Linked DNA regions of Homo sapiens. The protein of the gene in region 4 purifies or fractionates together with the protein of the main gene of each other region. This does not show direct contact. Each region holds a gene or a part of one and is shown on either strand. Other genes may lie near its edges. The genes, in order: ABCB8, TNPO3, PPP2R5E, VSIG1, SLC35F2, TNPO2 and DAGLB.

The links.
Region 1: the proteins of VSIG1 (region 4) and ABCB8 purify together in Homo sapiens (affinity purification with mass spectrometry; 2 studies listed by BioGRID and IntAct, with this or other methods). This does not show direct contact.
Region 2: the proteins of VSIG1 (region 4) and TNPO3 purify together in Homo sapiens (co-immunoprecipitation; 3 studies listed by BioGRID and IntAct, with this or other methods). This does not show direct contact.
Region 3: the proteins of VSIG1 (region 4) and PPP2R5E purify together in Homo sapiens (co-immunoprecipitation; 3 studies listed by BioGRID and IntAct, with this or other methods). This does not show direct contact.
Region 5: the proteins of VSIG1 (region 4) and SLC35F2 purify together in Homo sapiens (co-immunoprecipitation; 3 studies listed by BioGRID and IntAct, with this or other methods). This does not show direct contact.
Region 6: the proteins of VSIG1 (region 4) and TNPO2 purify together in Homo sapiens (affinity purification with mass spectrometry; 3 studies listed by BioGRID and IntAct, with this or other methods). This does not show direct contact.
Region 7: the proteins of VSIG1 (region 4) and DAGLB purify together in Homo sapiens (co-immunoprecipitation; 3 studies listed by BioGRID and IntAct, with this or other methods). This does not show direct contact.

The regions. Positions count from the first base shown.
Region 1 is NC_000007.14:151,034,712-151,038,768, reverse strand, and holds part of ABCB8 (mitochondrial potassium channel ATP-binding subunit), read right to left. Parts: intron 4,046-4,057; coding exon 3,940-4,045; intron 3,189-3,939; coding exon 3,027-3,188; intron 2,888-3,026; coding exon 2,802-2,887; intron 2,697-2,801; coding exon 2,599-2,696; intron 2,226-2,598; coding exon 2,120-2,225; intron 1-2,119. UniProt on the Homo sapiens protein: ATP-binding subunit of the mitochondrial ATP-gated potassium channel (mitoK(ATP)). Together with pore-forming subunit CCDC51/MITOK of the mitoK(ATP) channel, mediates ATP-dependent potassium currents across the mitochondrial inner membrane.
Region 2 is NC_000007.14:128,999,427-129,003,483, forward strand, and holds part of TNPO3 (transportin-3), read right to left. Parts: intron 1,809-4,057; coding exon 1,633-1,808; intron 1,142-1,632; coding exon 1,003-1,141; intron 1-1,002. UniProt on the Homo sapiens protein: Importin, which transports target proteins into the nucleus. Specifically mediates the nuclear import of splicing factor serine/arginine (SR) proteins, such as RBM4, SFRS1 and SFRS2, by recognizing phosphorylated SR domains.
Region 3 is NC_000014.9:63,378,965-63,383,021, reverse strand, and holds part of PPP2R5E (serine/threonine-protein phosphatase 2A 56 kDa regulatory subunit epsilon isoform), read left to right. Parts: intron 1-864; coding exon 865-966; intron 967-4,057. UniProt on the Homo sapiens protein: The B regulatory subunit might modulate substrate selectivity and catalytic activity, and might also direct the localization of the catalytic enzyme to a particular subcellular compartment.
Region 4 is NC_000023.11:108,065,144-108,069,200, reverse strand, and holds part of VSIG1 (V-set and immunoglobulin domain-containing protein 1 isoform 2 precursor), read right to left. Parts: intron 2,266-4,057; coding exon 2,067-2,265; intron 1-2,066.
Region 5 is NC_000011.10:107,792,365-107,796,421, forward strand, and holds part of SLC35F2 (solute carrier family 35 member F2), read right to left. Parts: intron 437-4,057; coding exon 251-436; 3' UTR 1-250.
Region 6 is NC_000019.10:12,713,933-12,717,989, forward strand, and holds part of TNPO2 (transportin-2), read right to left. Parts: intron 1,808-4,057; coding exon 1,701-1,807; intron 1,607-1,700; coding exon 1,473-1,606; intron 1,393-1,472; coding exon 1,311-1,392; intron 1,238-1,310; coding exon 1,115-1,237; intron 1,008-1,114; coding exon 889-1,007; intron 1-888. UniProt on the Homo sapiens protein: Probably functions in nuclear protein import as nuclear transport receptor. Serves as receptor for nuclear localization signals (NLS) in cargo substrates.
Region 7 is NC_000007.14:6,413,109-6,417,165, forward strand, and holds part of DAGLB (diacylglycerol lipase-beta), read right to left. Parts: intron 3,814-4,057; coding exon 3,733-3,813; intron 3,647-3,732; coding exon 3,519-3,646; intron 1-3,518.

The DNA.
Region 1 (4,057 bases), on a different chromosome or scaffold from region 4:
GGAGCAGCCAGCGAAACAGCACAGACAAGCCCCTGGGGGTTCTTGTGTGTGTCATAAAGCTGCTGGATGGCCAAGCAGTACGGTGGGAGGTAAAGTCAGAGTCTCAGGCCCTAAAGGGGAAGTGGGGGTCCCGAAGCGGGAGGGTTGGGGCTGGACAGTGCAGCCACCCTCCCCACAGGGAGACTGTCCCACCACTGCCCACCACAGAGGGCTAAGGGGTGATTTTATTAAGGGAGCCACTGGGCTTCTTTTTTTTTTTTTGAGACGGAGTCTTGCTGTTGCCAGGCTGGGGTGCAGTGGCGCAATCTCAGGTCACTGCAACCTCTGCCTACCAGGTTCAAGCGATTCTCTTGCCTCAGCCTCCCGAGTAGCTGGGACTACCACCATGCCCAGCTAATTTTTGTATTTTTAGTAGAGACGGGGTTTCACCATGTTGGCCAGGATGGTCTCGATCTCTTAACTTCACGATCCACCCACCTCGGCCTCCCAAAGTGCTGGGATTACAGGTGTGCGCCACCGCACCCAGCCGCCACTGGGCTTCTTATGGGCCCTCAGGACTAAAACGACCGTCCCATTCAGAGAGGCCAAAACTCTGGTCAAGGGAAGTGGGTCAGCGCTGAGCAGGGCAGGCAGTGGTGGAGGCAGCCCCCCAAGACCCCATCTCTATCACAGTGAGAGCATCTGAACTCCAAAGCCACGACAGAACAGCTCCCAGCCCCCCAAGACCCCATCTCTATCACAGTGAGAGCATCTGAATTCCAAAGCCACGACAGAACAGCTCCTTGGGCTGGAGGAGGGCGAGGCTGCCAAGGAGGCCTGAGCCCGGGACCAGAAAGGGTCTGAAGGTGCTCAGATTAGGGAGCACGAGCAGAAACGGGGCACGCGAGGGTGTCCATGCAGCTGCGGAAATGGGAGGAACGTCTCTGTGGAATGTCAGGTTTGGGGCTGAAAATGGGAGCCTGTCTCCGTCCGCCTCCCGCTTCCTGGGACAGTACACCCTGCAGTGAGGGGTTCTGATCCGGCGGACACACACGCAGGGGTGCACCATGCAGCAGGGCGAGGACACATGCCTCAGTAGAATGGGGTGGGGGCCCCGGTGGAAGAGCAGGGGGGTCGTGGGGGGAGGGATGGGGTGGCAGAGGTGATGCACGGTTCGTGGAGACGGGTCTTCACCCTTTGATGATCTGTTACAGCATATTTACTATCTCATTATTTACCATAACATATTTATGTAGAACTGCTTGTGTTTAGCTTGGAAAGAGATAGGAGGGGGGAGGCCCGCCTTGAGCTGTCTGGTGATCAGCTCTGGTCATCCCAGAGGCTCAGCTGAGCGGGTGGTTTTGGACCAACGCAAAGCAATAAGCTATAAGGGTGGGGTGTGTGGGGACAGGGGTCAGCTTGTCATCCCTGGAAGTGGCAGGCATGGGGAAGGGCAGCTCACACAGCCTGTCAAGGATGGTCCTTCCATGCATGGAATGTCACAGCCTGCAGCGGAAGGGAATTCGGACAGGGTGCAACACGGAGGAAGCTGAGGACACAATGTGGAGTGACAAAACGCAGTCACAAAAGGACATAGTCTGACTCCACTTAGAGGACGTCCCTAGAGTTGTCAAATCATAAGGACAGAAAGTGGAATGGTGGGTGCCAGGGGCTGGGGGAGGGCAAATGGGGATTCCCATGTCATGGGGATAGTTTCCGCTCTGCCAGGTAAGAGTTCTGGAGGCGGACGGTGACAACAGCCGCACAGCAATGTGAGTGCACCCACTGCCCATGAGCTGCACACTTCAAAATGGTTAAAATGCTGTATTTTATGTTTTGTGTACTTTACCACAGTTGAAACAAATTTTTAAAAAGCCTGTCAAGGAAACTTCTGGGTCCTTTGGAAGGCTGAAGATGACAAGCACCTGCCTGCTGCAGCGCCACTGCCCCAGCCAGGAGGGTTGTTATGGGCCCTGAGGGGCTCTCTCTCCCCACCCTATGCATCCCTGGGGAAGCTGGGCAGGCCTGGAGCTGCACAGCAGTCGGCCCCCAGAGAAGGCTGGCACCCGTGTCCCCTAACCCAGCAGGGCTCTGGAGGGCGGCAGGGGGCTCTGTAGCAATGGGAACGGCCCCCACTTACCTTTGCACTGTCTGGGAGGCCACCAGGAAGGACATGAGGTCTCCCCCTGTCAGCTGCTGTCCGGCCACAAGGGAGCCCCCAATAAATAGGGTACCCAAGACCATGCCTGCAGGAGAGGGGAAGTGAGGGAGGACGAAGCCAGGGCAGAGGAAACAGCCCTGGGCCTGCTCTGCCACTGCTGACTGGGAGAGTCAGGTGAGGCGCATGACTGGTCCCAGCGTTGGCTTCCTCCTCGGAAGAGCAAGTTGGGGTGGGCACGCCTCCATGGCCTCCTTGAGGGTGGCCCTGTAGCGTTCCACATGGAGTCCCATAGCTGGGTTGGGACATCGGCACCCTCCCTTTACCTGCAAGAGTTAGCAGCTGGCCCGAGGCGAATGCAGGCAGCCAGCAGATGAAGGGAGGGCCTTTGCCTGCCTTGGCTGCTCCCAGCTCCTCCCCAGCCCACAAGCGCCCCTCCAGCCCCCAAATGGCTCACTCACAGTTGAAGGCGATGTTGGAAAGCCCTTGGAACAAGGCGATGCCGCGGCCCAGCTCCTCTGCCCGGCAGCGGCAGGCTTCCAGCTCTGCCCCATAGCGCCTGGTGAGAGAGACCAGTGCATTCAGGAGGCAGCTGGGCTGGCACGAAGGGTTGGCAGGGTGTGGGGGGCATCTCTGCTTTGTGCTCCGCCCTCCCAGGACTCACTCCTCTTCCCGTTGCTCCATGGCGAAGGCACGCACAGTCCGCACATTGCCCAGGGCCTCGTCTGCTACGCCCATTGCCCTGGCGATCTGCAAGGAGTCCAGGAAACAGGACAAGGAGTCCAGAAAACAGGACAAGGAGTCCAGGATGGGGACAGGGAGGAGTTCCGGGGAGTGGAAAGAGAAACGGTGTGGGGAGGGTGAAGAGGATGGCCAGGAATGCCGGTACCTGCTCCTGACACTGGCGAGACAATTTTCGGAGGCCTGAGCCCATCAGGGTGCCCACTCCCATCAGGGCTGGTGTGGCCACCATCAGCAGCAGCGTGAGGCGTGTCGACAGCATGGACAGGGACACCAGGCAGCCTGCCACCTGGGTGCAGCTTCGCAGCCCCTAGGGAGTGGGAGGGAAGGCGGGAGGCTACGGCGTCCGCACCATGACAGGAAGGACTTTTCCAAGGGTCAGCTGACTGTAGCTCTGCACTCCCACGGCCAAGGCCCAGGTCTTGGCCCCTGGGAGGCCCAGTGGCAGTCCACCGGTCACAGTACGTAACCCTAACTCGGCCAGTTGGGGTGCGAGCAGCAGGCCTGAGGGGGCCGAGCGAGAATGCTATGAACTGTGGCATCCTTCCCCTAGACAAATCCCAGCTTGCTTCTCTTTCTGTTCTAGGAACTGAACAAAGAGAACTGCATGGGGGTACACCAGTGACTGCCTAGGCCAGTGTGTGGCATGATCCAGCAGTCAGAGTCGGTGTGGGCGGATAAGGGGAGGGCATCTGTGTTCGGTAGGCCACTGCACATGCTCAATGCTTGTCAGCAATCCAGGCACTCTGGGGACAAGGCAGGCGAAGTGATTTTGCTCTTGCCAGGAAAGGCTCTTGTCTGAGTGCTTGGGAAGGCTTTCCAGGGAAGATTCGGTTTCAGAGCAGTGGAGAAGCAGCCTGTCCTGACCTTGGACACTGCCTCTACACTTTCCTTCCATGAACTTCCATGGTCCCTCACCCATGCCCTCACAGGCAGTGGGTTTCTCGAGTCAGCATGCGCCTGTCAGCCCAACATCAGGGCTGGGGCGGGCAGGGCTGGCCTGGTGAATCCACATGGGAAAGTGTGTGTGTGGACGTGGTGGGGGCCACTGGGCCACTGACCTGGGAGATGACAAGCTTGAAGGATGACTTAAACTCCTGCACGTCAGTTGTCAAGCGGCTCACCAGCTGCCCTGTCTTATTGGCGTCAAAGAAGGTGATGTCTTGTCTGGCATGGGAC
Region 2 (4,057 bases), on a different chromosome or scaffold from region 4:
GTATCCTCGTAACATTATGTAAAACAAATAAACGTTGTCTTGTATGTGATAACAGAAAACAGGCCGAGAGTCACAGGACCACTGTGCCTAAGGCACAGTAAGAGGATCCCTACCATCCTTTTCCCATCAAGGATCCAAAACAGAGCTATTTAAAACAATGCCCAACTTGGGAGCACTTCTTTCTCACTTTTTTTTTTTTTTTTGAGACGGAGTTTCGCTCGTCTCCCAGGCTGGAGTGCAGTGGCCCGATCTCAGCTCACTACAACCTCTGCCTCCCAGGTTCAAGCAATTCTCCTGCCTCAGCCTCCCAAGTAGCTGGGATATTACAGGTGTGAGCCACCACGCCTGACTAATTTTTATATTTTTAGTGGAGACAGGGTTTCACCATGTTGGCCAGGCTGGTCTCAAACTCCTGACCTCAGGTGATCTGCCCACCTCGGCCTCCCAAAATGCTGGGATTACAGGTGTGAGCCACCAACCCCGACCCTTTCTCATTTCTTATACTATAAAGAGGTAAAACTTCTCAAATAAATGAGATTTTAAAAAATCTAGCAAACCTCGGTAAGTAGGATGTCAAGGATTCTGAATGACAGAGACCCTTAAGTCCTTTCAATCCCTTTGTCATTCTCATCCATCATTTGGAGAAAAATTGGGGGTGTTAAGACTTGTGGAGGTATAGTTAGAATTTGGTGTTTTTTAGCTGTAACACTCTAGAGAATAAGTCAAGCTAGACAAGGGGTTCATTGGAAAGGCTTGCTTTCTAACGAGTTCCTTGAGGGGCCTACAACAGCCCAGCCAACCAGGTAAGAAAACAGAAATGGACACAATGCAGAAACCCAAATATAATTTTTTTAAAAAATTCCAAAACAGATGAAATCACATTAATTAAAAACAAGACTGTAATTTCTCAACAATAAAAATTTGGGCACGAGGTAATGAAATATAGATAATATGCAGCACACAACTTGGAGAATAATGGCCTTTGAATAGCATAAACACTACCTCATATTGAGGATGGCCTGCACAGATAAGCAGCAGCTCCAGAGTTCGAAGGTCCCCAAGACCTTGGCCTGGAGTACAAACAATTTTTTCAAGAAAAGTTTCACATAGTTCAGTGAAAATACGGCAGTAATTCAGAACTCTGTAGAAGACAGGGGAATGAGAACAATGAGTCAGAAATCTGGATATTATAAGTATATACAGGCACAGTTAATCAAATAAATAAAAGGTTCCTCAGTCTAAGGGACATCTAGTGATTATTTACTATGCTGTATCACAATCCCCATGACAGACACCTTTACCTAGATCGTACACTCCTACGCAAGTGACTTGTCAGTTCAAATTCTCAATTATTAAAACATTTGAATAAAAACTCCCATCAAATCACACTTGATATTTTAAAATTTGTCTCCAACTTTTAAAGCCTTACCTTTCTATGGTAATTCTACAAACCCTGCACCCAATTTGCCACTCTAGGTTCAGAAGAGCATAGTAGAGCATCTTTAGGAAGCACTATCTGTACTTTACAGAATCACTGAGAATCACAAATGACAGACGAATAATAAAAAGTGACTTAAAAGAATGACCAGACTGTAGGTAAACCCAGGGCTCCAGACTTAAACAATTACTCACTTGTCTAAATCTTCACGTGCCACGGCCATATGATAGGCAGTCTCCAATGTCAGCACTCCCTGAAAAAGTTGCATGGCTAATGGCAAGTTAGTCTCCACATTCTCAATGGCATAGAGAGCTGAGCATACACAGTCCGAAGCAGCTTCATGTAGGTTAGACGAGGTCTTATCCTGTTGCTGGGGAGGTAGCAGGAATAGGGAAGCAAGAAGTATGATCACTAAGGAGTGATCTACAGTTGGCCCTGCACACCCTAGGGTTCAATCAACCATCGATAGAAAATATTCAAAATATAAGTAAATAATAATACAATGAAAAACACAAATTTAAAAATTACCCTATAGCAACTATTTACATAGCATTTACATTGTATTAGGTATTATAAGTAATTTACAGGTGATTTAGAGTATATGGGAAGATGTGGATAGGTTATATGCAAATACTGCACCATTTTATATAAGGGACTTGGGCATCTGCATCTCTTGGAAACTGTGCACAGAGGGGCAGGGGTAGTGGGTGGTCCTGGAACCAATCCTTTGAAGATAGTGATGGATAAATGTAATAGGAAAACAATTAGAGCCTCTTTCTTTCTTTCAATTATAGCCTCTTTCTGAACATGTACTTTAAATGTGTAACAGTCAAGTCATAGCCTTCCATGAGACAACATCCATCAATCTTCCCAATCTTATTTCTATTTCCTTATATGTCAAGCAAATCAGCCTTTCTGTCCCGAAGTCATGGTCGTATCATTTCTAATCTCCATGTTCTTGTTCACACCAGCCCCTCCAAATGGAAAGCCATGTGTTCCCTACCCTATTCTAGTGTGTGAAAAATCTTTTCCATCCTTTTTCTGATACTCAAGTACTACCTAAAATGAAAGGGCTCAACAAGTATCAAAGACACATACCTAAACACATCATTGTGAAATTTCAGAATACCAGAGTTAAACAAAGGTCTGTAAAATTTCAGGGGAAGAGAGGAGGAGGTAATAGTAAGGAGCAGAATTCAGAGTTCTCTGACTTTTCATTAACAATGATGCATGCTAGTAAAGGAGAGCAAGGCCTTTGAAATTTTGAAGGAAAATAATATTCAGCCTACAACTTAATACCTAGCTGAGCCATCAATCAAGATCGAAAGCAAAATAAAAATAGTTCTCAGGCATGCAAAAATTCCAAGTTTACTTTCCATTATATCTTTTCTGAAGAAGTTATTTGAGGGGGTTTGAGAAACAGCTAACCTAATCCAGAAAGCACAGTAAAGACAAGTCCCAAGATGACAGGGAGTAGATCTAAAGAACAACTGATGCAAATCAGAGCAGACCAAAAGGTCCAAGAAGGGAATCCTCCCGGGTTTCTAGTGAAGAGAGTACAGTTGAGAGGTTGAATACACTTAGTAAGGGCGTATTAGTCTTCCTTGAATAATTTTTTTAAAAGGATATTTAAAATCTCCAGTGGGACAAAAAGGTATATAAGCAGGTTTGGGAGAGCACAAAGATGCAAATTATTTATTAGGTATTCTTAGATTGAATAGTAGGTTCAAAGATTCTCATTATATTACCAAGTTATAAAAAGTCAGTGTTCGAGCTGGGCATGGTGGCTCACACCTGTAATCCCAGCACTTTGGGAGGCCAAGGTGGGCAGATCACAAGGTCAGGAGATCGAGACCATCCTGGCTAACACAGTGAAACCCTGTCTCTACTAAAAATACAAAAAATTGGCCGGGCGCGGTGGCTCACGCCTGTAATCCCAGCACTTTGGGAGGCTGAGGCCGGTAGATCACGAGGTCAGGAGATCGAGACCACGGTGAAACCCCATCTCTACTAAAAATACAAAAAATTAGCCGGGCGTGGTGTCAGGTTCCTGTAGTCCCAGCTACTGAGGAGGCTGAGGCAGGAGAATGGCATGAACCCAGGATGCAGAGCTTGCAGTGAGCCAAGATGGCGCCACTGCACTCCAGCCCCGGCGACAGAGCGAGACTCCCTCTCAAAAAAAAAAAAAAAAAAAAAAAAATACAAAAAATTAGCCAGGTGTGGTGGCACACACCTGTAGTCCCAGCTACTCAGGAGGCTGAGGCAGGAGAATCATTTGAACCCAGAGGGCGAAGGTTGCCGTGAGCCGAGATTGTGCCACTGCACTCCAGCCTGGGCGACAGAGGGAGGAGACTCTGTCTCAAAAATAAATAAATAAATAGTAAGTGTTCATACTTATTCTTTTGTATATATGAAGTATTTTAATTTTTAGGGTTTTTTTTTTTTTTTTTTTTTAAGAGCTGTTGGGGGAAAGTTGTACCAGAAAGTCATGGTCCAAACATACAGCAAAATAAAATGTGACATGGCCAGGTGTGGTGGCTCACATCTGTAATCCCAGTGCTTTGGGAGGCTGAGGTGGGAGAACTGCTTGAGGCCGGTTCAAGACTAGCCTGGGCAATA
Region 3 (4,057 bases), on a different chromosome or scaffold from region 4:
GATCAGAGCTAGACAGATAATTCATATTGAACCACCCAACCTACATGAGGGCTTGATTTCATTTCTTTGGATAAGAATAATTTATATATATACACATATATATATAACATTTGTTTCTAGGGAAGTAGCTTCTGATTTTGATGAATTATGTGTTATTTAGAAAATAGAATTCTATGCAAATTCAGATGTCTAAGGTTAGTGCTATCACAGATCCTTATTTTAGGGTGAAATTGCTTTACTATTATACTTGCCTTTTTATTAAATGAAATTATCAAATGCCCACAGGCAGCTCTATTCTGGGTGCCAATAATTAGAAGGGCAGGCCAGGTGTGGTGGCTCACGCCTATAATCCCAGCACTTTGGGAGGCCGAGGCAGGCAGATCACCTGAGGTTGGGAGTTCGAGACCAGCCTGACCAACATGGAGAAACCTCGTCTCTACTAAAAATACAAAATTAGCCAGGTGTGGTGGCTCGCTTCTGTAATCCCAGCTACCCAGGAGACTGAGGCAGGAGAATTGCTTGAACCCAAGAGGCGGAGGTTGCGGTGAGCCAAGATGGTGCCATTGCACTCCAGCCTGGGCAACAAGAGCGAAACTCCGTTGCAAAAAAAAAAAAAAAGAAATTAGAAGGGCAAAGTTAGATTTTTTTTCTAGTTCTACCACCCCTCAGAAAATTATCTTGCCTTGAAATCTCTTGATGTGGAAATGAACTGTAGGTCATTTTCAGTTGTTCCAACTAAAAAAGGATACAGACAGTGTGCAGTACGAGAAATCATTCAGACAAAAGTTGTGCTTTTGCTTTCTTCATTCAGTATCCCATTTTATAAGACTAACTAACACACTCCTTTTTTTCTGTGCTTTCCAGGGCTATTGTGGCGTTGGTGTACAATGTGTTGAAGGCATTTATGGAAATGAACAGCACCATGTTTGACGAGCTGACAGCCACATACAAGTCAGATCGTCAGCGGTAACTTTTTAAAGCTTTTTTGTCAGCTGTGCATAAAGCTATTGAGTTTTTTCCTTGCTCTTTGCTGAAGTTGCCTAATTGTACCCCAAATCTTAAGCAGCACAATTTTGTTTACAGTCATGCATTACTTAACAACCAGTATATGTTCTGAGAAATGCATCCTTAGGCAATTGTATTGTGTGAACATCATAAGTATACAGTAATTACACAAACCTAGATGGTGTAGCCTACTATGACACACCTGAACTATGTAGTATTGCCTGTTCTTCCCAGGCTACAAACCTGTGGTGAATACCGTAGCCAATTGTAACACAAATCACTAGGCAGTAGGCCTTTTTCAACCCTGTTAAAATTTTATGGGACCACCGTGGTATATGTGGTCTGTGTTGACCGAAATGTTGTTATTTGGCACATGACTGTATTTATATATTCATTTTTGCACACTTATTAACTGTGTCTTTATTTATTTATTACTGTGCCACTGAGTAACAAAGCTTCCTGACACTCATTTTGATAAAGCCCGCTTTCTTTCCTTTCTTTAATAATATTTCACTTCTGCCTCAGGGTTAAGAGCCCAGCATTTAACTGGTATTTTAGGTTCACTTAAAGGGACCATCAGGTAGTTTGCTCTCTGGGATTCACTCCCACTCTGAACTTACTTGAAGTATAATTGGGCAGATCTTGTACTTCACTCCAATAGCAGGGGGAATGAGGCACCATTTATCTAGCTCTTGGGCCCAGGACTTACTAGAACCCAACAAATTTATTACAATTTAAAGATCAGTGAAAAGAACATGAAGGTTAATAGTCTGGTATTAACCAGAAATGTTTGAGACCATATGGGAGAACAAACCAGTGGAACTCTTTGCAATAAATGCTTATGGCTTAGTAAAAATCTTGTCCAATGCATTCTACTTTCCAAAAGATGTACTTGGGGAGATTATAGAAGTCTAGAGAGCTCTTAGTAGTTGCGCCTGTGGTTTGGCTTTGATCATCCATAAGCAGATGTCAGCTTTGTATATCATAAAGCTATGGACCTTAGAGGACCCAGAGATGTGTGCGAGTGTTCATACCCAGGGTCTTGCTGAACCTCTCTGGTTCCCTTGGTGCTTTGCTTTGTCTCATTTTTAGTCTGTCAACTTGCATTTTATTGATAAAAAGAGCAATGAGGGGAAAGGTTTGATGGCAGAGGGACCATTGCAATGATTTTTTTGTTTTAAGTTACCAGGGATGTGGTTTATGAAAACCAACTTAATTATGGAATGTGGTGAGTATTTAGCTGAGAATCTCAGAAGAGGCTGGGATTTTTTACCCAGAATATTGGGATTATTATCAATTATGGGATATGTTATTCCATACTCACAGTTTAAACAACTTTTTTTTTTTTGTTTTTTGAGATGGAGTCTTGCTCTGTTGCCCAGGCTGGAGTGCAGTGGCGCGATCTCAGCTCACTGCAAGCTCCGCCTCCCAGGTTCATGCCATTCTCCTGCCTCAGCCTCCTAAGTAGCTGGGACTACAAGCACCCGCCACCACGCCTGGCTAATTTTTTGTATTTTTACTAGAGACAGGGTTTCACTGTGCTAGTCAGGATGGTCTCGATCTCCTGACCTCATGATCCACCTGCCTCGGCCTCCCAAAGTGCTGGGATTACAGGCGTAAGCCACCGCGCCCAGCCCTAAACAACTTTTAATTCAGTATATTAGCGATTGTTGCAAATTATAAATTTATGATAACCCTCCTTGCCCCAAACTTAAAATCTTTAAAGGATGTTACTTAAAAAAACGGCCAAGGGTACATTTTAATACTGTGTTGCATCGTTAAAGGTGCTTTGTGCATAACATCTTCTCTGAAAGCACATTATTATTATCCTAGTTGAACCAGGATTAAATCCGTAGAATCTCATCAAGAATATTGAAGAACTTGGCTGGGCACGGTAGCTCACGCCTGTAATCCCATCACTTTGGGAGGCTGAGGCGGGCGGGTCATCTGAGGTCAGGAGTTCGAGACCATCCTGGCCGAATGGTGAAACCCTGTCTCTACTAAAAGTATGAAAATTAGCCAGGCACGGTGGCATGCGCTTGTGGTCCCAGCTACTAGGGAGACTGAGTTGGGAGGGTCAGTTGAACCCGGGAGGTGGAGGTTGCAGTGAGCTAAGATCATGCCACTGTACTCCAGCTTGGACATTGGAGTGAGACTCTGTCTCAAAAAAAAAAAAAAAAAAAAAAAAAAGAGAGAGAATATTGAAGAACAACTTATTTCCACTCAAATTATTTGGTTTGTATTTAGTGAACTTCAATAATAAAACTATTTTCTGGTTATTATCTAAACTAAATAGACTAAACCCTTGAAAAAGATGAGAATTAACTAAGGGGACCAGGAATAGATAAAACTATTATTTTATCTATTCCTGGTTGAGGTTGATTATGATATTCTGGCATATTACAGTTATTTATAATGAGTGTACTTTCTTAATGAGAAAATGGGGGCCAGGCGTAGTGGCTCACGCCTGTAATCGCAGCACTTTGGGAGGCCAAGGCAGGCGGATCACCTGAGGTTGGGAATTTGCGACCAGCCTGACCAACATGGAGAAACTCCATCTCTACTAAAAAATACAAAATTAGCCGGGCGTGGAGGCACATGCCTGTAATCCCAGCTACTCAGGAGGCTGAGGCAGGAGAATCACTTGAACCCGGGAAGGGGAGGTTGCCATGAGCAGAGATTGCATCATTGTACTCCAGCCTGGGCAACAAGAGGAATCCCAGCTCTTTGGGAGGCCGAGGCGGGCGGATCACGAGGTTAGGAGATCGAGACCATCCTGGCTAACATGGTGAAACCCCGTCTCTACTAAAACTACAAAAAATTAGCAGGGCGTGGTGGCGGGTGCCTGTAGTCCCAGCTACTCGGGAGGGTGAGGCAGGAGAATGGCGTGAACCCAGGAGGCAGAGCTTGCAGTGAGCCGAGATTACACCACTGCACTCCAGCCTGGGCGACAGAGCGAGACTCCGTCTCGAAAAAAAAAAAAAAGAAAATGGGTTTTTAAAAGCAAGAATAATAATTTGTCAAATGAGCAATAGAAGGGTGTACTGACAGA
Region 4 (4,057 bases):
TTATGGAAATTGATTTGGGATCCTCTGAGCTTTAAATTTAAGAATATTAACCTTCTTGTCTAACTTTATCTCAGGGCTATTTCCAAGCTCTGAGATGAAGAGACTTGGCTTCTTTAGATTGTTTCTGGTCAGAACATCCCAGAACCAGGAAGCAACAGAAAATCATTAGCTAATCCCTCCAGTTTTTGAACATTTAAAAACCCCTTTGATCTCCAGTATTTCATTTTATAGGTAAAATAACAAAACTGTTCATAACAAACCTGTAAAGAAGACAGGGCAGAAATTATAACCCCATCTCACAATGGTCAGAGAAAGGTGGACTGACTTGTATAAGGTCACTGAGTACAGAGTAAGATCTAAAACTCAGGTCTTCTGAGTGCCAGTTTGATGCTTTGGCATTTATAGCACATCACTTAGTTCCCATGTATATAACTAACTAGTTGATATGGTTTGGATCTGTGTCCCCACCCAAACCTCATGTCAAATTGTAATCACTAATTTTGGCGATAGGGCCTGGTGAGAGGTGACTGGATCATGGGGGCGGATTTCCCCCTCGGTGCTGATCTTGTGATAGTGAATGAGTGCTCATAAGACCTGGTTGTTTAAAAGTGTGTGGCATCTTCCCCTCCCCTTCCTCCTGTTCCAGCCATGTGAGACATCTTGCCTCCCCTTTGCTTTCTGCCATGATTGTAGTTTCCTGAGGCTTCCCAAGAAGCTGCTATGCTTCCTGTACAGCCTGCAGAACCGTGAGACAATTAAACCTCTTTTACTTATAAATTACCCAGTCTCAGGTATTTCTTTACAGCAATGCAAGAATAGACTAATACACTAGTCTTCCAAACTGAAACAGAAACTCTCCCAGGAATTTGCTTGAGTAATACTTCTCTTGTCTGTTCCTGTACCCCAATTCCTGGCACAGAACTCAGTAAGATAAAAATATGATTGATTAAGCTAACCCACTCTTAAAAAATAGCTCTTAGGTACCTTTCCCTCTTTCCCAGGTGGGTAGATGCAGTGGCAAACCTCACAGTAAATGTCAGCTGGTTCCTTTGTGGCATTACCTGAGTGGCAAGCCAGGACAACTGTAAACAGTTCTCTTGGGTATGCACCTTGTTACCAATTGCTGCTTTTCCAAGCTACTCAACTATTAAGTCACTGATTTGATGTAGTTCCTCCTTTCTTGTGATGTGTGCACACAGCTTGAGAGCAGCAATGACTAGATCAGCTTCATTTGGGGCTACCTAGAAGTGGGAAAATGCTCATCTCAACTGGTCTGTCTGTAAGAGTTGAGGATTGGCAGCCCTTTCATCCCTTGCTTCGATACTTCCCAATACCAGCCTGCAGATGGAAGTTTAGCCCACATTGTCCTCTCAGACAGAGATTGTAAGGACTTCTAGAAATGGCCAAAATTGGGAGCTTCCCAAGGGCAAAAACAACACCTCCATCACTGTAACTCAATAAATACTGAACAAATGAGATTCCAAATTCATTTTAAGAGCAGATACGGCTTGCCCAATATCATATAATGAATATTTGTATGTAAATATGTTGATTCTCAACACTAGATTAATTTCAGTCCTTTTTCCAAATAACATTAGCATTTTAAAAAAGGGACTCTCCTGTCTTTATTTAAAAGAATAATTTAATGGTGGGAATTGTGTCGAGCTTAAAAGGAATAATAAGTTGACAGTAGTCTCCCCCAGGTAGATCTGGCTGTAAATGGAGGTTTCCTCTAAAAGAGTTGCTAGTGATCATTTTGTGGGACAGTGGATTGTCTCATCTGTTCTCATTCCATCCCTCAGAGATAGGGATCACTGGAGGTTGGGTCATCTACTGCTGTCATTTTGGCAGCCCGTTTGCACAATTGTTCTGCATGTTTTATGAGTGATTTCTCAGTGTTACTGTTTTGGTTGGGCTGGTGGCTTGTCTCTATTTCCCTGATAATGAAAATATTAGGGAGTATATTTACCTACAGAGACTTAATTGGCATCATAACTCACTGTCCTGGCTCATTCAGTGTCCTAACTTTTTCCAAGAAAAGAAAAAGCAGAAAAAAGTGCTCATACCTAACACACTGACGTTGAGGATGCCTTGGTTTTGGCCGAGAAAGTCTGGGGGGTTGTTAACATCGCAGATGTAAATTCCACTGTCTGCTGGCTGCATATGCGAGATAGTGATAGATGCATTACCTGGATCGTTGGACCCTGTAATTCGATCTTTAAATTGCCCGATGGCTACAGCTTGTCCACCTTGAGAAAAGTAAATCTAGACAGAAAAATAACAGAAGTGAGAACTGGAGAGAGTCCAGGACTAGGATAAGCTACCTGAAAGCTTCTTCTAAACACATTACCTTTGATAAAGAAGCAGCATCTTCCCCCCACCAGGAACAGGTCCCTGTGGCCAAGGTTTCTCAACTCAGTGGGGCACTTTAGTTTGCTCACAGCTGCGCATTTGGCCCTCAGAGCAGCTCTGTGATGTCATCAGGGCAGGGATTAGTATGCCTATCTTACAGAGGAGGAGGCAGCTGGAGCTGACAGGATTCAACACCTAAGCTTGGGCTAGGAGATCAAGATGCTCACTTAATGAATCCACCTGAGAGAAACTCATTATGTAGAACACAAATGTCTGATGGGAAACCAAAACCATCATTTTTTTTTTTTTACCATTTTATAAACTTCTTAAAATTTGAATTTACCTTACCCAGTGAGACTATCTGGTTTCCTTAAATGTTCAAATGTTCATGCTCCTTTTAGACACACCTACTCTTTTGGATAGACAAACTTGGGTTTGTTTTGTTTATTAGAAGCAAAGCGGAAAAGCATCTTAGAAATCATCTGGTCCCATCCCTTTATAGTGGTGTTGTGAAGATGAAACTAAGAAATCTAGTAAAGGACCTCGGAAGTGCTCAGCCAATGATAGCTACCATCTTTCTCCCCATGTGGCAGAAGGCAGAACTGGAATTCTTCTGTCATTTAAACAAATAAGGCATCTCAGACCCAGAGAGATTAAGTGACCCATCTGAAGCCACAAGGGCTCATTTATTATTATTATAACTTATTAAACTTAAGATCTGGATTCTAGTCCCATTTCTATTAAAGAGCATAGATACTTAGATCATAATGGCAACTGTGGGAGCAGCATGATGTGGTGGAAAGGGTCCTGGTCTAGGGGTCAGGTGGCTTGAGTTAGTCACAGCTCTGCCCCTCACTGTGATATAGTTAGGGGAGGTGGCCTCTAGTCATGCCTCCATGGCAGCCTGGTTTTAGATAAGAAACAAAGTTATTTAATCTCTCCAACCTTTACTTTCCACATCTGAATGAGAAAAGAGAGTAATGTTTTCCAAAGTATGATATGTATTTACCAAGTATAGGCATTTAAGTTGATTTTAGGTAGTATATAAATGAAAACTTACAAATTTCAATGTGTATTAGAAACAGAAAAATCTAGCACATTAAATCTATGACTTCCTGAATATTGTTGCATAGGGTAGATTAAGGTAGATATTTTTTAAGATTTTAAGAAAACAAGTCAATACAGAAAATAACATTAAATAACAAATAGTGCTGGTGATACACAAATATGACAAAAATCATGTAGATGGTACATGAATGACTGAAGCTGGGAAATCACTGGATTAGGTAATTCCTGAGGTCCCTTCATAATACACACCTTCTATGTACATGTTTTGTTGGTTTCATGTAAATGTATATTATTCAAGTGATTGTTATTGTTCAATAAACTGTATTGTCTTAGTCTGGTGAGACTAATTTTTCATAAAATCTACTGGAAGGCCTTACAGTTCATTTAATTCACTTCCCTCAGTTTACAGAAGAAACCAAAGCCCAGAGAGGTTAAAAAATAAAAGGCAAAATTGACGGTTGAGACAGATCTGGAATCCAATTTTCCTAATTCCTTGTACTGTGGGCTTTACCTTAACAGGCCAATAAAAGAGGGAAAGCAATTAGAAAACCAAAAGATATTGTCTAGATGAATTCAAATGTATTCTCCTTTAAGCAGAAAGTCAATATATTTTAAAACTAAGGCAGAAAGCTGGATT
Region 5 (4,057 bases), on a different chromosome or scaffold from region 4:
ACCTCATCTCCTCAACACGAACAGATATTGGTCCTCAAACACAGAAACACACTCTTAGCTTGGTTTCTGCTCTATTTTGGTATTTCTACTTTTGAACTTTGTTCAGTGTTCCTTTCTAAAACCTAACCACTGGATCCAACCCAGGGTTGTAGAGTGTCCATTCTGAGTCTGCTATTTCCCCAAGTGTCCCCTCAGCAGGCAGCAGGCTCTGCTTTATCCTGGTGGGGGATGGGTGCGCCATCTTCTCCAGCTACAAGACAGCAGAGTGGGTCTCCTGGAGGTTCTCCTCCAGCTTCAGCCCCAGGTTGTCAATCCCAATGCTGGTGACTGGAGGCACGCTGCTTTCAGCCGGCTCGGCCGTGCGAGTAGGGGTGGAGCAGTACAGGATAAACCCCACCATGATGACAGTGAAGGACAGGATGTAGAGTCCTGAAAACTAGAAGGGAAGAACAGGCAGTGAATTGTGCCCCTCACATACACATCTTTGCTGCTGGCTTTTGCCAACTGTGCTTCGAGGATTACCCTCTCATAATCTTTTTATTTTCTTTCTTTCTTTCTTTCTTTCTTTTTAAGACAGGGTCTCGCTCTGTGGCCCAGGCTGGAGTGCAGTGGCACAATCTCGGCTCACTGCAACCTCCACCTCCCAGGCTCCAGTGATCCTCCCGCCTCAACCTCCAGAGTAGCTGACACCACAGGCACTCACCACCACACCCGGCCAATTTTTGTGTTTTCTGTAGAGACGGGGTTTTTCCATGTTGCCCAGGATGGTCTCGAACACCTGAGCTCAAGCAATCCGCCCGCCTCAGGCTCCCAAAGTGCGGGGGATTACAGGCGTGGGCCGCCATGCCTGGCCTCATGATCTTTTTTCTGAAAGTTACCTAAGGAGATGCTAATGCACAAAACCTTCCCATGTATGCTGGTGAATGATGGGACTCTGCCAACAGCACCCGGCACATAAGCCACCTGGATCCTTGGATCTTTAGGAGAAATGGACCTTTGCTTTTCTCTGTCATAATCCAGCTACACCCCACTCTGCATATAGTCCCACTTAGTGGAGAAAATAAAAGGTCATCATGGATACCACAGAGAGCCCCATTCAGACCCTAGACACTGCTTACAATATTGGTATGAAGCAGAGGAACGTAAGACTATGATGAAATGTGGAAGTACAGAAGGGGCATCTGCTCAACAGCCTCTCAATGTGTGCTATTCAATGAAATTCATTTTGCTAAAATTTAATACATTATCTTGTCTCTGTGGGCAAGTATTACATAGTAAAATTTATGGTGGACTGAGCAGATTCAGAATTGTAGAGCTAGAAAGAGCCTAAGATACTAGAAGAGTCCAAAGCCCAAAGAGGTGACTGAGTGTAAGGTCCGGTGAGGACAATCATAGGAAACAGAGCCCTGTGAGAGGCATCTCATACACTCTCTGTTCCCAGAAGGACCAAAAAGAGCAGGAGCCCATTCTGACAGAAATTTTAAAAGTATGGATGGAGTTTTTGGTGACCTTCCCCAACTTTCCCCTTCCTAAGACTGAAAACCACCACCCAGAGCAAAATGCAATGAGGAAAGAACACTAATTCATTGGGTATATATATGGAAAAATGATATACCCCAAAAGTCTAAATAAATTCTATTAAGAATTTTGTATATTTCCTCTTGAGTTGAAAATCCATACAAAAGTTGAAGTATTAAAGAAATCAGTCTGTATTTTTTCTTTTTTTTTTTTTTTTAGACAGAGTTTTGCTCTGTCTCCCAGGCTGGAGTGCAATGGCGCAATCTTGGCTCACTGCAACCTCTGCCTCCCGGGTTCAAGCGATTCTTCTGCCTCAGCCTCCCGAGTAGCTGGGACTACAAGCATGCACCACCATGCCTGGCTAATTTTTGTATATTTGGTAGAGACGGGGTTTCACCATGTTGGCCAGGCTGGTCTCGAACACCAGACCTTGTGATCCGCTCGCCTTGGCCTCCCAAAGTGCTGGGATTACAGGCGTGAGCTACCACGCCTGGCCATCAGTATGTATGTTTAGCAGCATGATAAAGCACAGAAAGAGAGTGGCTAAAGACTGACCAAGAATGGTGTACTAAAAATTAGAGAAACTATGTACTGTAACTAATGTGTAATCAAATACCCAGGGCCTTATTTTTCCTTTCAACTGGAAAAGCAAACTCAACTTATGATTAATCCTGCTAACCTGATTTTAAAATTAGGAATGGAGTAGCTAACATCATACTGAATGGGGAAAATATAAAAGCCTTACTTTTAAGAACTGGAAAAAAACAAGGATGCCCACTTTCACCACTCCTATTCAACATAGTACTGGAAGTCCTAGCCAGAGCAATTAGGCAAGAAAAAGAAATAAGAGGCATCCAAATTAGAAAAGAAGAAGTTAAATTATCCCTCTCTGTAGATGACATGATCTTATATCCAGAAAAACCTAAAGATGCCACAAAATAGCTCTTAGATCTGATCAATAAATTAGGTAAAGTTGTAGGATACAAAATCAACATATAAAAATCAGTAGCCTTTCTATACACTAATAATGAACTAGCTGAGATAGAAACCAAGAAGGCAATCCCATTTACAACAGCTACACAAAATAAAATAGGACTAAATTTAACCAAGGAGGTGAAAGACCTCTATAAGGAAAGCTACAAAACCCTGATGAAAGAAATTGAAGATGACACAAATGGAAACACCCATGCTTATGGACTGGAAGGATTAATCTCATTAAAATGAGCATACTGCCCAAAGCAATCTATAAATTCAGTGCAATCCCTATCAAAATATCAATGTTATTTTTCACATAAACAGAAAACACAATCCTAAAATTCATATGGAACCACAAAAGGGCCCAAATAGCCAAAGCAATGCTGGGCAACCAAAACAGCATGGTATTAGTATAAAATGAAAATGAACTCCTATCTCTCACCATATAAAAAAATCAACTCAAGGTGGGATTAAAGACTTAAATATAAGACCCAAAACTATAAAGCTACTAGAAGAAAACACAGGGAAACACTTTAGGACATTGGTCTAGACAAAGATTTTATGGCTAACATCTCAAAAGCACAGGTAACAAAAACAAAAATAGACAAATGGGACTATATTAAACTAAAAAGTTTCTGCACAGCAAAGAAGACAATCAACAGAGTGAAAAGATAACCTCCTGAATGGGAGAAAATATCTGCAAACTATTAATCCAACAAGGGACTAATAACCAGAGTATACAAGTAACTCAAATGACTAAAGAGTGAAAAACAAATAATCCTATTAAAAAGTGGGCGAAGGACATGAATAAACATTCACCAAAAGAAGACATAAATGGCCAACAGGTATATGAAAAAATGTTCAACATCACTAATCATCAGGAAAGTGCAAATCAAAGCCACAATAAGATATCATCTTACCTCAGTTAGAATGGCTATTATTAAAAAGTCAAAAAATAACATGCTGGCAAGGATGTATAGAAAAGGAACTCTTAGGCCAGGTGCGGTGGCCCACGCCTGTAATCCTAGCACTTTGGGAGGCTGAGGCGGGTGGATCACCTGAGGTCAAGAGTTCGAGACCAGCCTGGCCAAGATGGTGAAACCTCATCTCTACTAAAAATACAAAAACTAGCTGGGTGTGGTGGTGGCACCTATCCAGCTACTCGGGAGGCTGAGGCAGGAGAATCACTTGAACCCAGGAGGCGGAGGTTGCAGTGAGCCGAGATCATGCCACTGCACTCCAGCCTGGGCAACAGAGCAAAAACTCCATCTCAAGAAAAGAAAAAGAAAAGGGAACTCTTAAATACTGCTGGTGGGAATGTAAATTAGTATAGTAGAGCCACTATGGAAAACAGTACGGAGATTCTCAAAAAACTAAAAATAGAACTACTATACAATCCAGCAATCCCACTACTGGGTATTTATCCAAAGGAAAAGAAATCAGTATATCAAAGGGAGATACCTGCACTCATCTGTTTATTGCAGCACTATTCACAATAGCAAAGATATGGAATCAACCTAACTGTCCGTCAGTGGACAAATGAATAACGAAAATATGATATATA
Region 6 (4,057 bases), on a different chromosome or scaffold from region 4:
GGTAGGAGGATTGCTTCAGCTGGGAGGTCAAGGCTGCAGTGAGCCATGATTTTGACACTCCACTCCAGCGTGGATGACAGAGCAAAACCTTGTCTCAAAATAAAAAAGAAAAAAATGATTTGGAGAGAGGCAAGCAATCCAAGTTTGTCAAGGAGGGTCAGTTTTAGGACTTTTGTTGGAAACACTGGTCGAAAATTTCTTTACTCTGAAGTTCCTAAGCTGGAAGGGCACAGAAGGCTACAGCACTACCCAGAGGGAAGGTTGTGCCTAAGAATGAAGCCAACACAAGGGAAGCAGATCTGAGACCACAAAGATGCCTTTCACATCCTTTGAGCTCCTGGATACAGCCATACCCCTGAAGCCTTTGTTGATTTTTCATTTCTTTTTTTTTTTTTTTTGAGACGGAGTTTTGCTCTGTCACCCAGGCTGGAGTGCAGTGGCACGACCTTGGCTCACTACAACCTCAGCCTCCTGGGTTCAAGCAATTCTCCTGCCTCACCCTCCCAAGCAGCTGGGACTACAGGCGCCTGCCACCACGCCCAGCTATTTTTTTATATTTTTAGTAGAAATGGGGTTTCACCGTGTTAGCCAGGCTGGTCTCGATCTTCTGACCTTGTGATCTGCCCGCCTCGGCCTCCCAAAGTGCTAGGATTACAGGTGTCAGCCACCACATGTGGCCATTGATTTTTCATTTCTTTCCACCTATCAGTTACCTAATTTTGAAGTCTTCAAAAAGTGGCATTCTTACCACTTACACATAAATATATACTGAATGTAAACTGACAAGGATGTGGACTGAGAGAAGCACAGCAGGTGACCAGAAGGGAAGGCAGAGGCATAGCAAGGGGTCGAAGCTGGGGTAGGACAGTGGGCAGCAGCAGCACTCACTGGACCAGATGGGAGGCCAGGACTTCCTTGCAGATGGGCTGCTCGGCCAGCGTCAGCCAGAACTCACAGGCCTCAAGGGCAACGTTCTCATCATGGTCCTGGGTCCTCTGCAGCATGTACTGTGGTAGGGGGGAGAAGCTGAGGCCTGGCCTGGCTGGGGGTGGCTCCCTGACCCCTGCCACCGGCCCCCTGCCTGCCCGCCTGGGCTGGCCTTGACCATGCACACCTGGATGATGCTGTGCATGTGGGGGATGAGCCTGTCAATCCGCACTTCCAGAAGCATCACCAGGGCACGGCACACATTCTTCCGCACCTCGGGGTCATCATCCACAGCCAGGGCAAATAGGTGCTGCAGGGAGGAACAGGGTCAGTTGTAGGGGCCCTCAGTCCTCGCCCTGCCCACCCCCAGCCCAGCGGCCCACCTCGATGAAGGTGTCAATATTGTCCATCAGCGCCTGGGCCCGGTCCATGATGAACTGGTTCACGCAGGCGATGGCGTGGGACCTGGCGGGGAGCAGACACGTGGGTCACCCTGACCCTGCCCACTCCAGGCTCCCTGGAAGCCCCCAGGGAGCTGCACCCACCGGATCTTGGGACTGCAGTGCTTGAAGAACTGCAGGAACTTGGGGATCATGATGTTGAGGGGCCTGTTGAGGGCGTCACTGTCCAGAAGCTCTGATGAGTCTTCACAGATCTTCTGCAGGGCTCCAAAGGCTCCCTGAGTGCAGAGGGGCAGAGAGACAAACGTGGGTGGTGGGTGGTGGTCCCAGCCCCCCAGTACTCGCTCTGGCCATCCATGGCTTCTTGCCTACCTCACAAGTGTTGTAATCCTCCGAGTTAAGCAGGTTGCAGAGCTGGGGCAGCAGCTCGGGCCACATCTGCAGCTCACCCTTGGAAGCGATGGTGGTGATGAGAATGCCTGGGGCGGCCGGGAAAGGACGCTGCCTGAGGCTGGGCAGGGGCTGCCTAGCACCTCCCCCTCCCACTGGACACCCCCAGTGCTGCCTTTCTGTTCCCTAGCCCATGTACGCCCTCTACATCCCCCCTCCTTTTTTTTTTCTTTGTAAGAGATAGAATTAGCTCTGTTGCCCAGGCTGGACTGCTGTGGCACAATCAATAGTCCACAGCAGCCTCAAACTCCTGGCCTCAAGCCATCTTCCTGCCTCAGCCTCCTAAGTAGCTGGGACTGCAGGCACATGCCACCACGCCCAACTAATTTTTAAAATTGTTTGTAGAGATGGGATCTCACTATGTTGCCCAGGCTGGCCTAAAACTCCTGGCCTCAAGCAATCCTCCTGCCTTGGCCTCCAAAAGCACTGAGATTACAGGCGTGAGCCACCGCTCCTGGCCTTGACATAGGTAGAAGGGTACTCCTTGACTCAGTAGGCACCCTGAGCCTTACTGTGAGTCAACTCTGTTCCAGGCCCTGAGGCACAGCACAGAGCAAAACACAAAATCCTCACCCTTGGGAGCTGGAAGCAAGCTATGAAGTAAAGATAAATTAGCAAAAAAAACTGGGAGGGGCCGTGCATGGGTGGCTCATGCCTGTAATCCCAGCACTTTGGGGGACCGAGGTGGGTGGATCACTTGAGGTCAGGAGTTCGAAACCAGCCTGGCCAACATGGTGAAACCCCATCTCTACTAAAAATACAAAAATTAGCTGGGTGTGGTGGGGGGCACCAGTAATCCCAGCTACTTGGGAGGCCGAGGCAGGAGAATCACTTGAACCTGGGAGGCAGAGGTTGCAGTGAGCAGAGATCGCGCCACAGCACTCCAGCCTGGGATGGAGCAAGACTCCATTTCAAAAACAAACAAAACAAAAACAAACAACTGGGAGGGGCCACATGCCAAGGACTAAGGGGGGAAATACAGCAGAAAAGATGGTGAGAAAGGGCTGTAGGTGAAGGTAGCAACTTTAAATTGGGTGGCCAGAGCAGGCCTCGTTGAGGTGACATCTTGATATCTGAGCCAAGGCCTGAAGGAGGTGAAGGAGGCGAGGGAGGAATCATCCAGGTTTCTGGGGAAAGGGCATCTGAGGCAGGGGACTCTATGGTGCAAAGGCCTGGCGTAAGGACAGGCATGATGAGAGAGGGAAAGGAGGTAAGGGCAGGAAGGTGGCAGGGATGCTTGTACTGCCTATTAGATATCCAGGAGTTACATACAGCAGGCATCTGAGGTGCCAGGACAGTGCACATATCTGGTGACAGAGCTGGATATGGGTTCTGTTAAGTGCAGAGATGGTATTTGCTGCCATGAGATGGCAGTGTTTCCCAAGGGTGGAAACTCAACGAGAGAAAGGTGCTCCCTGCAATGGGTAGGTACACAGTGAGGATTGTGGAACTTTAGCCACACCCCCTCATTCTGTGTGCCTCAGTGCTTCCAGCCCTCAGAAGAGATAAAGAAAACCAGCCTCCTAACTAAGGTTATCAGTAGGTTTCTTTTTCTCTCTTTTTTTTTTTTTTTTTTTTTGAGATGGAGTCTCACTCTGTAGTCCAGGCTGGAGTGCAGTGGCACAATCTTGGCTCACTGCAACCTCCACCTCCCGAGTTCAGGTAATTCCCCTGCCTCAGCCTCTGAAGCAGCTGGGATTACAGGTGCCCGCTGCCACACTCAGCAAATTTTTGTATTTTTAGTAGAGATAGAGTTTCACCATGTTGGCCAGGCTGGTCTCGAACTCCTGACCTCAGGTGATCCACCTGCCTCAGCCTCCCAAGGTGCTGGGATTAGAGGCGTGAGCCACTGTGCTCAGCCTGGATCAGTAAGTTTCAATGACTTAGCAAAGAGCCTGGCACATAGAATGAGCTCAGGAAGTCCACATCCTACTACTGGCCTGGGAGGGGGTTTTTGCAGGACTAAAAGTTACTTTTTATTTTTGAGATGGAATCTCAGTCTGTTGCCCAGGATAGAGTACAGTGGCATTATCTTGGCTTACTGCAACCTCTGCCTCCCGGGCTCAAGCAATTCTCCTGCCTCAGCCTCTCGAGTAGCTGGGATTACAGGTGCCCACCAGCTGTAATTCCCAAGTAATTTTTTGTATTTTCAGTAGAAACGGAATTTCACCATGTAGGCCAGGCTAGTCTCCAACTCCTGATCTCAAGTGATCCGCCTGCCTTGGCCTCCCAAAGTGCTAGGACTATAGGCGTGAGTTACCACACCCAGCCAGAAGTCA
Region 7 (4,057 bases), on a different chromosome or scaffold from region 4:
GTAACACTGAGGGGTTAGGTTCCCAGGCCTCAGCTCTGTTCTCTCTTCTCTAAAGGGAGGGTAGGGGAAACGTCAGTTATGGCAACTCACTGGCCAGATCCTACTAAAGCCACAATATGTGTTCAACAGAGACGCCCCGCAGCTAAAACCGCAAACTGGACACCAAGGCGGACCAAGCACATGGATCTGTCCTTTGACCCAGAAACCGCGCTTGGAAGACTCCATCAAAGATGCACTGGAGGCCGGGTGCAGTGGCTCACGCCTGTAATCCCAGCACTTTGGGAGGCCGAGGCAGGCGGATCACAAGGTCAGGAGATTGAAACCATCCTGGCTAACACGGTAAAAGCCCGTCTCTACTAAAAATACAAAAAATTAGCCAGGCGTGGTGGTGGGCGCCTGTAGTCCCAGCTACTCAGGAGGCTGAGGTAGGAGAATGGCATGAACCCGGGAGGCGGAGCTGGCAGTGAACTGAGATCGCGCCACTGCACTCCAGCCTGGGCGACAGAGCGAGACTCCATCTCAAAAGAAAAAAAAAAAAAAAAGATGCCCCAGCAAAAATGAAGGGGCAGAGGCAACAGGCGATTCACTGCGGCAGAACCTGCACCGGCAGAGGCTGGAGCCTCCAAACACCCATCCACAGAACTGCCTTCAGCTCCCAACAACGAGTCACATAATAGTGCGTCCCGCACAGCTGGGAGAAGGAGGAGGACTGTGTGTGCCACTGCGGGGTCATCTCAGGACATGCGGTGAAAGTGAACAGCCACGACCAGAGACAGAAGAGCAGGGAAAAGGTGCAGGCTTTCATCAACAGGAGGAGAGGAACACAGACACGCTTCCTTCCAGCCATGGACATAATGGAAACACCAGTCAAAACCACCACATTCTACCTCTGGGGTGACAGAAAGGACTTTTTTGTTTTTGAGATGGAGTCTCGCTCTGTCTCCCAGGCTGGAGTGCAGCGGCACAATCTCAGCTCACTGCAACCTCCATCTCCCAGGTTCACGCCATTCTCCTGCCTCAGCCTCCCAAGCAGCTGGGACTACAGGCGCCCACCACCACGCCCAGCTAATTTTTTGTATTTTTAGTAGAGATAGGGTTTCACCGTGTTAGCCAGGATGGTCTTGATCTCCTGACCTCATGATCTGCCGGCCTTGGCCTCCCAAAGTGCTGGGATTACAGGTGTGAGCCACCACACCCGGCCAATTTTTTTTTTTTTTCTTTTGAGACGGAGTGTAGCTCTGTCACCCAGACTGGAGTGCAGTGGCACGATCTCGGCTCACGGCAACCTCTTCATCCTGGGTTCAGGCAATCCTACTGCCTCAGCCTCCCGGGTAGCTGGGACCACAGGCACACGTCACCACGTCCAGCTAATTTTTGTAAGGAACCGGGTCTATGTTGCCCAGGCTGGTCTCGATCTCCTGGGCTCAAGTGATCCTCCTGCCTCAGCCTCCCAAAGCGCTGGGGTTACAGGTGTGACCCAACATGCCCAGCCTCCTGATGTTTAAGTATCACTATACACTACAGTTACATTTTCTCTTTGGTGTAACAAAAGCCTTTCCTACCTCTTTCCAATGAAAAGGCCTGGAAATTATGACCAGCCCTGTGGTAATGAGAACTACCAGTGCCCCGATTTCAGTTCAGAAATACCATTTCCTGCTAAAAGGAACCAATATTCCTTGGAGAAACGGTTGATTCCAGATATGGACGATGGAAAAAAAAAATACTTGCTCATTTCAAGCCCAAAACTTGAGAATATTCTTGAGAAAGCAAGAAAATGAGGCCAGGCACAGTGCTCAACACCTTTAATCCTAGCACTTTGGGAGGGTGAGGCAGGAGGATCACTTGAGCCCAGGAGTTCAAGACCAGCCTGGGCAACATAGCAAGACCCTGTTCCTTACAAAAATTAGCTGGATGTGGTGGTGTGCGCCTATGGTCCCAGCTACTTGGGAGGCTGAGGCCGGAAGATCACCTGAGCACAGGAGGCAGAGGCTACAGCAAGCCATGACTGTGCTGCTGCACTCCAGCTGGGGAGACTGAGTGACACTCTGTGTCAATTAAAAAAAAAAAAAAGACAGCAAGAAAACAGACGACTGAAATTTAAGTTTTAAAAAATTAATGTCTGCCTCTGTAGACTGCTAGGCAACAATTCATTATTCTGAACACTTCTTTATTGAGGGAAAGATTTAAGCACTTATACATTCTCCTGTTTTTTCCTGTGTGAACTATATGTCAAAGAAACCAAGTGTGCGAAGAAAAGCTCTTTTTGTTCTTTACGTACATACTTTTTAATCATCCCAAAGGGCCGGGATTACAGGCATGAGCCACCACGCCTGGCCTTTATTTCATTTTAATGAAATAAAGTGGTATAATTTTCCTTTATAATCATGGCAAAAGGTTACACAGAACAGTCAGTATGCTGGAATCAGCAAAAAAAAATATAAACTTTTCAGCCAGGCGTGGTGGCTCATGCCTGTAATCCCACCATTTTGGGAGGCCAAGGTGGCGGATCATGAGGTCAGAAGACAGGAGATCGAGACCATCCTGGCTAACACGGTGAAACCCGTCTCTACTAAAAAAATACAAAAAATTAGCCGGGTGTGGTGGCGGGCGCCTGTAGTCCCAGCTACTCGGGAGGCTGAGGCAGGAGAATCGCTTGAAGCTGGGAGACGGAGGTTGCAGTGAGCCGAGATCACGCCACTGCACTCCAGCCTGGGCGACAGAGCAAGACTCCGTCTCAAAAAAAAAAAAAAAAGTAATTTTCAAACTCATAAAAATGTCTTTAAACATGTGCATTATGCATGTGTCCCCACCCAGGGCATATGCCCCCCGAGAGGGCGGAGGGAGTGCTCAGCATACTACGGGCTCTGGGCGATGTGCCTACCAGGCGCATGGATGTCAACAACCGGACCCCTCTGCCAGGGCTGTGAGAATGGGGGAGGTTGTGCTTGCTTGTGGGGAGGGAGGGTATGAGAGATCCCTACAATCTGCTGCTCAGTTTTGCTGTCAGCCTAAAACTGCTCTAAAAAATAAAGTCTGTTTGAAAAAAGACTCTTAGAATTAAATCATTGAGGAAATTACAGGTATGGTCACATAGGTCTAAGAAAGGCTAGACAGACTTTCTTCTGTGAAATAGCGCTTCAAAACACAAACCTCAGCTGGGTGCGGTGGCTCACGCCTGTAATCCCTGCACTTTGGGAGGCCGAGGCGGGCAGATCACTTGAGGTCAGGAGATCAAGACCAGCCTGGCCAACATGGTGAAACCCCACCACTACTAAAAATACAAAAATTAGCCGGCATGCTGGCGGGTGTCTGTAGTCCCAGCAACTCGGGAGGCTGAGGCAGAAGAACCGCCTGAACCTGGGAGGTGGAGCTTGCAGTGAGCCGAGATCACGCCACTGCACTCCAGCCTGGGCGACAGAGCAAGACTTCATCTCAGGAAAATAAAAGAAAAAAAAGATGAGTCTTGACCACATGACTTGTAAGTAGCAAGCTGTTAGAGCAGGAAAACAAAGGCTCACCTCCACAGCCCCCGGGGTGGGGAGAAGGCGTAGCACCTGACCTGCGGGTAGGCGGCTCTGAGCATGGTGGCCAGCAGGGCGGCCGCCCCGCCCCCGAGGCTGTGGCCCACTATGACCAGCCGGTACTCCTAGAGGACAGACAGCAGAATGAGGTGAAGGGTAAAAACAACAGCTCCAAAGAGGACAAGGAAAGAAACGTTAACTAAGATCTCACAGGAGCAATGCTGAAGGCTTGGCTCAAAATCCCGTCGTTGATGAGTCGTTGGTAAACGTATCTGGCAGCTTGAGAAATACCCTAAAAACACAGACAAAGAAGGTGGCCGTTAATCCTCAGACAAGGCAGGCCCAGCAGAGACTCAAAGATGGGATGACGCTGTGCACTGATGTGTGAGTCTCTCCTGGGATCTGAGACTGCAGAATCAGCAGCCACGTCCATCGTGCATGGCTGTGCTCCTGGCACCTTGCACAGCGCCTGACGTGAAGCAGGTGCCAGGTGTGGTGGCGCACGCTTGTAATCCCAGCACTTAGGGAGGCCAAGG